2 separate regions of the Homo sapiens genome follow, and region 1 is linked to region 2. The links come from fine-mapping of genetic effects on gene expression. A gene starts in region 2. The other region holds a variant in brackets. All regions are shown on one strand. Distances are between the middles of the regions.

Region 1 (4,393 bases), 990 kb after region 2:
TTAGATTTTAATGCGAGAGGAATTTTTTACACCTGCATTTCTCTAACTTCCCATATCTGAGGAAGCACCTGAAACACAGAGCTCAAGACCAGCACCACTTAGCTAAAAGTCTGGTCAAAAGATCACATTGATGATAATTGTAAATGAACTGACTATAGGGTCCAAAAGATTCCATGTTGCATTCAGAGTAAAATGCAACATGGCTTTTTGTGTGGCTCCTGCTGACCTCTCTAGGAACACCTCCCCCCACTCTGCACCAAATATTTTAGAGAGCTCAAGCATCTCTTCCTCCCAGAAACATTCCTAAAGTCCTAGCCTCCTCCCCATCTCCACTGTATCTACCACAAGGTACTCTAATTTTCTGCTGAACTGATCGCTCCTCCTAGAGGCCAGTGGTTCTCAAGCTTTATGGAGAATCAGATTTAGTGGGTCTGGGGTAAGGCAAGAGAATATGCAATTCTAACAAGTTTCCAGGGATGCCAATGCTGCTGGATAGAGATCACACCTTAAGAATATCTGCTCTAACCTACCAGTTCTAACAAGAAAAAAATCCCAATTTACTTTATTTTGTATCCCTGATACCTAACACAGTATGGCATACAGTAGACAGTCAAACGACATTTGTTGAATAGAAATAATGTATGAACTAGTGAATCCCTTGTTATTTTGTGTTGAATGGAATGACAAATTGGTCTCCAAGTGTAAGAACCCAAGACACTCCTCCATCAGTATTAAGTTACCTCTTATAATAAGTAGAGGGAAAGTGCTCCTCTCCTGGCCTCTGAGCTCCAGCATACTATCTGGTGCTGCTGAAAGTACAACTTGAAAATGCAATTTATTTTAGACAGGTTCTCACTCTGTTGCCCAGCCTGCAATGCAGTGATGCAATCATAGCTCACTGCAGCCTCAAACTCCTGGACTCAAGCGATCTTCCTTCCTCAGCCACCCAAGCAGCTGGGACTACAGGCACATACCACCGCACCTGGCTACAATAATTTTTGCATTTTTTGTAGAGATGGGAGTCTGATCTAAATTTTATTTTTAATACATAAAATTATGAAAGGCTTGATTTGGCTGAAGACAAAAATGTAAACAAACCTTCTCTATGGTTAAATATTCCTTCTTTAATAGTATTCATATGCAAATAAGTAAAAGAAGACAAGTAAGATACTGGCATTAGAAATATGTCTTGAAGGCCACTAAGTTTATTTCAAAAAAAGTATGAAGTGCTCTTTCCCAAGATCAATACCTTAAATCAAGTTGACCAAATTTATTTGATAATCTGAGAGTTTTGTTTAAAGTACAGATACCCAGGACCCTCCTGTGGAGAGTCTAAATTTCAACAGCATATAATGGGGCCCCCAGAAATCAGTCTTTTTTAACAAGTTTCAGGTGGGGCCCACATAGTGATTGCTTTAAGCTGCCCATCAATTAACTAACTAATTAACAAGCAGCTAGTACTGAGAACCACTGCAGGAACTCACGTAAAAATTTTCTCATGAAACTATTTTTGGCCTAATATTTTTCACCTGGAACAGGTTAGGTCATGGTGCAAAAAGCCAGGTTCTCAATCTGGAATGTTACTTTCTTGCCCTTTGGTTTCCTGGAGGGAATAAATGTGTAAGGCATTTCTACCACAGATCAAGTTTTGCGTCATGACACAATGGGGCATGAGCCACTCCAACAATAACAATAGAACCATTAGTCAAAAGACCTCAGGAAAAAGGGAAACCTGTCACAGGATGACGACAATTACCCAATTATTCTGAACATAAAAAGTAAACCTTTAATATTTGTCTTA[T/A]GGCATCAGAACTATGGCATGATCTGGAGAAGTAATTAGCATATTGGAATTTTATGCTGGTACAATGTCAGGGTAAAATAAAGGTGGGCTCTGGAATGTACGGTGGGGAGGGTGGAACTAGAAATGGTCTTGCATTTGAGTACAAATATGGTGGTATCAACAATTAACTTTCCGCTAAAAAATAGTTTTCCTGTTTATACGTATGTACTGGTAGAAAAAAATTTGATGTTGTTAGATATTATGTTTGGAATAGGACTTCCTTTGAGATAAGGTTATTTAAGATGATAATTTTAATTCAGAAAGTGAAATGTTCTATCTTTTAAAAAATCAGATTATCTTGAAATCATACGTGCTTTCCTACCTCACTTCACTCACTTGCCTTCATGTTAAATCTCAAGAATAAAATCCAAGCATTTCAGCAAATCACTCTACATTGACCTCTGCCCAAAGATCTAGAGGAGGCCAGTCAGGCTTCGAAAGGACTGAGGCACTTCGGTTCATTAAATTGTTTAATATGAGCACTAATTTTTACAATCGTGTAATAAAAGTAGGTGTTTTCCAAAATGAACCGTAGACAAAGATAGAAAAGAATATATGCCTCTAGGACACACACCCATGGGGACTTTACAGCTAAGAAGTCGTTATTTTGCTAAAAATTAGTGTTGCAAAGTGCCATTCATTGTTAGCATAGCACCAGCACATAGGAGTCACCAGATGAATGTTTGATGACATTAGTTTTCTTTTATAACTGCCCATGTCTTTCATTAAACAATGACCATCAAAGAAATTATTTCTTACAAAAGAACAATTTGAGGAATGAGAGGCTGCAAATGTACAAACTACAGTTCACTGCATTTTTAATAAGAATTTTGAGCACAATAAAGATTTTATATCCAAATATATTATGAAAAAATGGATGCTAATGCTATGTTAAAAGGTTACCACACTAGGTTTATTTGCCTCTTTCTTCTTTTCTCATATCCTAAGTCATAGGCTTTAAAACAAAATCAGGTCTGAGATTCATGTAATCGTCCCCATTTTAGTGTCTGTGCCGTCTTTGGGCATCACTTGGTCCTGTCCGCCAGTGATCATGAAGGGAGCCTGGTCTGCACTGGCTAGGAAGGGAGGCATTGCAGCAGGCTCTGCCTCGGTCCACGCTTCACTCCCACCCGATCCCCCACTGACTCAGCTCATCTTCAACATCTTGTGTGGAAGATAAAATCATTGTGATGTACAGAAAAATCTACACCGAAAACAGGAATAAGAACAACCTCCCTCTCTCCTATCACCTGAATTCACATGGCTACTTAAAGTTAGTAAATTCAATAAAATTAGAGTTTAGTTCCTCAGTTGCAGTAGCCACACTTCCAGTACTCAATAGCCGTCTGTGCCTAGTGGCTACCATATTCATTATTGCAGGGATAGGAAGGTCTATTGGACAGCGCTAGTCTCCAGAGGGCCAGCTAAGGAGGGGAATAACGGTCCCCTAACCACTTGACACGTTAGCCAAGGAGGAGGAAAGAAAGAAACAGTGTAGTTCCCTTTTTTCCTTAGAAAACTGTTTTACTTCCACCAAAACTAGCCTGAGTGGATTCCATCCTTTCTCTTCCCCAAATCTTGCCTCCTTCCTGACTACAGTGGGGAAAGAAGTGGTAGTGTGTGAGAGATTTTGAAAGCAATTTTAAAAAACCAAAACAATGCATATATCTTGTATTTCGAATGGGCCAGGCACATTGGCACAGTGGCTCATGCCTGTAATCCCAGCACTTTGGGAGGCCAAGGTGGGAGGATCACCTGAGGCCAAGAGTTCAAGACCAGCCTGAGCAAGATGGTGAGACCCTGTTTGTAAAAAAAAAAAAAAAAAAAAAATTAATTAGCCAGGTGTGGTGGCACACACCTGTGGTCCCAGCTACTTGGGAGGCTGAGGCAGGAGGAACCCTTAAGCCCACAAGTTCTAGGCTGCAGTGAGCCGTGATTTTGCCACTGTGCTACAGCCTAGGCGAGAGAGACAGACCTCATCTCTTTTTTTTTTTTAAGTGATATGCCTGCATTTGCATTGCTGGCTCATGCTTGAAACCAGCTCACTGAGGTAACTTCTATATGGAAGTTGCTCCTGTAATCCCTAGGTGTTCCACATGGGCACATTGATTCAATTGAAGTTATTTTAGTAAGGCAATCATCATACTGATTGTTACTTGGAATTCGTATTCATGCTGCTTTAAGTAATAGCCTTTAACTTAATTTCAAAGCTTTAAAATAATTGTTTTAATATTGATGAAGACCGGTCTTGCTACCAATCTTAAATAAAAATCTTATTGGCAACAATCCTACATATATTAGAATATAAAAAGAATAATAACCAATAGTAATGAAGTCATTTTTTTCTTCTTCATGTCTGAAGAGCACACCCTTCTATTTCCAACACACATGGGTGAAGCTGAAGAGACTGACTATGGTAGACATTAGTAACATTCCCCCGTATTCAAGTGTTCTCCACTTCAGGACACACAAAGATTATAATTCCCCCATCCCCCTTATTTTATACATAGCTATGTAATTATTTCTGGCCAATGAAATGAGAAAAGGAAGTGA
Region 2 (4,393 bases):
CCAAGTTGAAAGGGAGGGTCATAAAGCTCTGCTTTTATTTGGGTAAGATGGGGAGAGGATAATGAGGCAAATTGACTATTGAGATTATTTCTCAGAAAATTTTGGAATTAAACAAGTTATTTGCTCAATTCCACATGTATATACCAGTATACTAGTGTGAAGTCTTCTGGGCTTCTGAGGGCCCAAAAACTTGCCCCATCTGCTTGTGTAATTTAAAATATTGTTTTATTCTGTAACACAGAAGGAAGTGCTATTTCACATCCAAGCTTCTTGTGTCCTCTGCTTCCCCCGTGTTTGCTGAATCCTTGGGCATCTAGGGATGGACATGGGAGGAGAGAGAACATTTTAATGGGCCCTGGCTGCTGCTGCGGTTCCCTCCAGCAAAGTTAGGGCCCATTGGCTTTTTTCTAGAAAGAATATGACTTTTGCTGACAGATGGCAGCAAAAGTCCTTTAATCAAAAACATCCAAGGTCATCAGAACTTTTTCAAGGGATAACAAATGGCCTGCTCCAGAGGGTGCTGTGCTGCTTCCTGCTTCAGTCCACATCCACTTAGGCACTTACTGGGTGTGCAGATGTTAATAGCAGAGAACTTATACACAGGTATCTGATGCAAACATTTGTAACATAGTACTGGAAGTGTAAAGACACTGTCTTTAAAAGGATGGGGGGTGGTGTTACCTCTTTCAGGAAGGTTCTGAAGGCTGCATGGCTATGCCCATGAGGGGAATGCTGGAGGCCAGCCAAGGACATTTACTTTCAGGGGGAGTTCACCAGAGCAGTTCCTGTGAAAAATATAAAGGGAATGTGACACCGGCCTTTGAGGAAAAGGAATTATTCTTTTTTCTAGGCTGATCTGAGGAAGTCACTCTTTTCCTGAACAAATGTCTTTTCAGTATTGCGTTGAACAAATTTTTCAATTGGGAAATATTTGGGGGCAAGGGGAGAGGGGAGAACTAGAATTAAACTCCATAAAAATGAGAATTGCTCTTAGAGGAGGACGTAGAGCAAGGAGTTTCAGAAGGGATCCAGAAACCATAACCCTGTCTGTCCAGAAAGATGTTTCTGTGGAGAAAGACCAGGTGGTAGAGTTTCAAACGGGTATTTCGGAGAGGTTGACAAGTACCTAAAACCATTTGAAGCCTTTAAGCTGGTTGGTGATTATCCTACTGCAGAACCTCCCGGGAATGGGAGGGACCCCAATTTATGTTGGAGTGGTGTGTTGGGGGCACATTTTCTTGGCCTGCAGATCCCTCGTTTTCTTCCCAAGGTAACTGGGGCTGGCTTGCAAGATGAGAGGGAGGAGGGGAAACCGAAAGTGGTTGGCTGCCTCTGGGGACAGGCCTTTTCCTGAGGGGAGAGGAGGAGAAGCCAAGTGACTAGCACAGGGTGAGAGATGGGAGGAGGTAGCTGTGGGGATCGCTTCCCCAGAGCGTGAGCAGTACATTGAGTTCATTTCCCTCCTTCACGATGGCCAACTGCGCAGAGGTTTTGAGCCAAACCAAAGAAAAGAACACACACACACACACACACACACACACACACACACACGCACACACACAAATAAATCCTAGAAAAAGAAACAGAGGAGGCGGGGAGGGAGGGAAGAACCACGAAGGGAAGAAAAAGGGAAAGGTGAAGAGGGACAGAGAAAGAGAAGGGAGGAAGGAGAGAGAGAATGGAGAGAGAGAGGAGGAGGAGAAGGAAGAGAGGAGGCGGGGGAGAGAGAAAGCAGAAGAGGAAAAAACATGGCGCTTGCGAGCTGTATGTGCAAAATCCGCAAGGAATTGCAGTAAATTCCTTTTTGTTTGAAGAAAATTTACAACTTGGTAATAGACCTTTTTATGACCTATTTGCGGTCGTCATTGGCTGCGGCTGGTCATGTGCAGGCGCCGCTCGCCTTCACGGCCTTTTTCCTGATTTCCCCGGCGAATTTCCCCCCGCATTCTGCTTTCCCAGAGCCTCACCCCCTCTTTTTCTAACCTTTGTCTCTGCAGAGGTGGGCTCCAGTCACCGGCTGCGGGATTGCGGAGTCCGCCGCGGCCTCGGCTCCCGCCCGGCGCCCGGCCTGGCCCCACCGCCGCTCACTCGGTCCGCATCGCCGCCACCTCCGGAGCTGGTGGGGAGCCCGGCGAGGGAGGGCCTGGAAGGGGCCCTGGGCGCCGAGTCCCCCGCCGGCGCCGACACCGCCTGCCAGGAGCAGCCGGCCTGCTCGAGGTGACTGCAGCCGCGCGGTTCTGGCGCGGCTTCTTCACCAACATGAGCGGGTCTCTGCGTCCGAGAGTGAGCGCAGCCGGGCAGCGCCTAGTGGATTACAGCAGACGCCCGGACCGACCGCCGCCTGTAGCTCGGCAGCCTTCGGGTAAGAATCGCCCCCTCCCCGCTCCCCAGCATGCCACCAAGAAGCCTGGGGCGCCGACCCCCTTGGGCAGCTCAGTCCGGCTGCTCCCCTACATTTCCCGGGGAAGTGGGGGGTCGCTGTCTAAGCCCCTTCCCCCAATCACTTCGTTCCTAGGGCGTCCCCTGGGGCCTGGGGTGGAGTCCGGCTGGGTTCAGAAGTCTAAGGGGGCAGTATTATTTCAAAAATTCTGAGATACGGGTAGCCACAGACAGGATCCCACTGCCTAGATGGAGAGCCCCTCAATCCTACCCTAGGAAAGTGTATAGACGGGTTACTACTGAACATCTCCACTTTGCTGGGGGTCACTAAAGGCATTTTATATAGAGCTGTGGTTTTTGTGGTTTACCTGTGGCCGTGGCCAGAGGTTCCTGGGAGGCTAACAGGTGTTTTTTGAGGGTTGGGGCTTGGGTGGGGGTGGGGTGAATTCTCTGTTTCTAGGATGTGCTTGGTGTTTGAATCTAGGCTTTAGTGACTGATGCTGGTTAATTTCTAGGGTTGATGGTTTATTGGGCCTTGTGTTGTATGAGATGGAATTTTAAATATTTTTAAATGTTTCTCTAGTTCTTAGAGAAATTTTTAAGCAACTCAAGATAGGCTCTTCCCGCATATGATAATCCGTCAGGTGAATTTGGATTCTTTTATATCACAAAATGAATCCATGTTTTGGGAGGTAATGGTATCAGAATATATGGTGCAGGTCTTGGTAAAAACCCAATAGATCTTTGAGAAATACAAGACATCTCTGTGTTGAAACATCGTGTGTTTCTTATTTGCCAGAGTAGGAAAAGAGTAGATCTTTTTGCTCTCTAAATGTATTGATGGGTTGTGTTTTTTTTCCCACCTGCTAATAAATATTACATTGCAACATTCTTCCCTCAACTTCAAAACTGCTGAACTGAAACAATATGCATAAAAGAAAATCCTTTGCAGAAGAAAAAAAGCTATTTTCTCCCACTGATTTTGAATGGCACTTGCGGATGCAGTTCGCAAATCCTATTGCCTATTCCCTCATGAACATTGTGAAATGAAACCTTTGGACAGTCTGCCGCATTGCGCATGAGACTGCCTGCGCAAGGCAAGGGTATGGTTCCCAAAGCACCCAGTGGTAAATCCTAACTTATTATTCCCTTAAAATTCCAATGTAACAACGTGGGCCATAAAAGAGTTTCTGAACAAAACATGTCATCTTTGTGGAAAGGTGTTTTTCGTAATTAATGATGGAATCATGCTCATTTCAAAATGGAGGTCCACGATTTGTGGCCAGCTGATGCCTGCAAATTATCCTGGATCACTAACTCTGATCACTTACAAATAAGAAACTTGAGTGATTGTTATTTTATTTGGAGTGTTTGTATTTTGTAATTATTTCTCTACTACAGTACAATGACCTTTGAGGTCATTCTTTGATCGGGGTAAAAAACATTCCCCATTGAAAAGCAGGCACCTGGATAGTGGCTTCTAGGCCCTGCCAGGTAGATTCGGAGCAGGAAGAGTCCCTAGGTCGGATGGTACCCGGGTGGGTGTGGGGGTGTGGCCCTGATGGCCAAGCTCTATGTTCAGAGCTTCAGTGCTTTTCCCTGGTTCTGTAGCACAGCGCGCTTGAGTGACTAAAAACCTGGGTTGGGTGCAGGTCCGATTACGCAGCAGAGGTTGATGTCATGGGCAGATTTGGAAGACTTGAGGGGTTCTTTGTAAGCCCCGTGGTAGCATTAATTCTTATTGGAACGAAATGGTCGATTGCATCTAAGGGAAATAATCCACAAATCACAGGAACTCTCGGGCCATTAGTCCACAAGAAAACTAGTTCGTGCTGTTGCCACTACCGGAAATAACCCCATTGTTTCTGTTAACCTAACCAAAAAATGAAACGAAATTTTAAAACGCTGGGACCCTGAGAGCTGAGAAGCCCAGAAGTATAACTCCCAGTGTCCTTGGCCCAAACCTCTGTTCTCTCATAGATCAGGGAGCCGATAGCATGTCCGGGCCTTGGTG

Direction of the effects. Alleles are on the strand shown, and positions count from the first base shown. SD is a standard deviation of normalised expression in the study named.
In carriers of allele A in region 1, the expression in visceral fat of the gene that starts at base 2,461 in region 2 tends to be higher than with T alone (moderate effect, 0.48 SD a copy in GTEx).

The links. PIP is the estimated chance that this variant, and not a neighbour inherited with it, causes the effect. A credible set is the group of variants that fine-mapping cannot tell apart.
Region 1: its variant is the best candidate, but not a certain one, in a credible set for the expression of HOXD-AS2 in visceral fat (GTEx, PIP 0.65).

The regions. Positions count from the first base shown.
Region 1 is chr2:177,122,885-177,127,277 of GRCh38, forward strand. All of the region lies in intron 1 of LOC105373760 (a long non-coding RNA gene), which reads right to left. Among named protein-coding and RNA genes, the nearest start is that of MIR4444-1, 88 kb to the right of the region's middle. The variant T/A (reference allele first, on the strand shown) is at 1,802.
Region 2 is chr2:176,134,638-176,139,030 of GRCh38, forward strand. HOXD-AS2 (HOXD cluster antisense RNA 2) reads right to left here and starts at 2,461. Exons shown (of 3, transcript NR_038435.1): 1 at 1,984-2,461; 2 at 682-785; 3 at 204-313. It overlaps LOC401021 (a long non-coding RNA gene), which reads left to right and starts at 1,975. Exons shown (of 2, transcript NR_148241.1): 1 at 1,975-2,362; 2 at 4,360-4,393.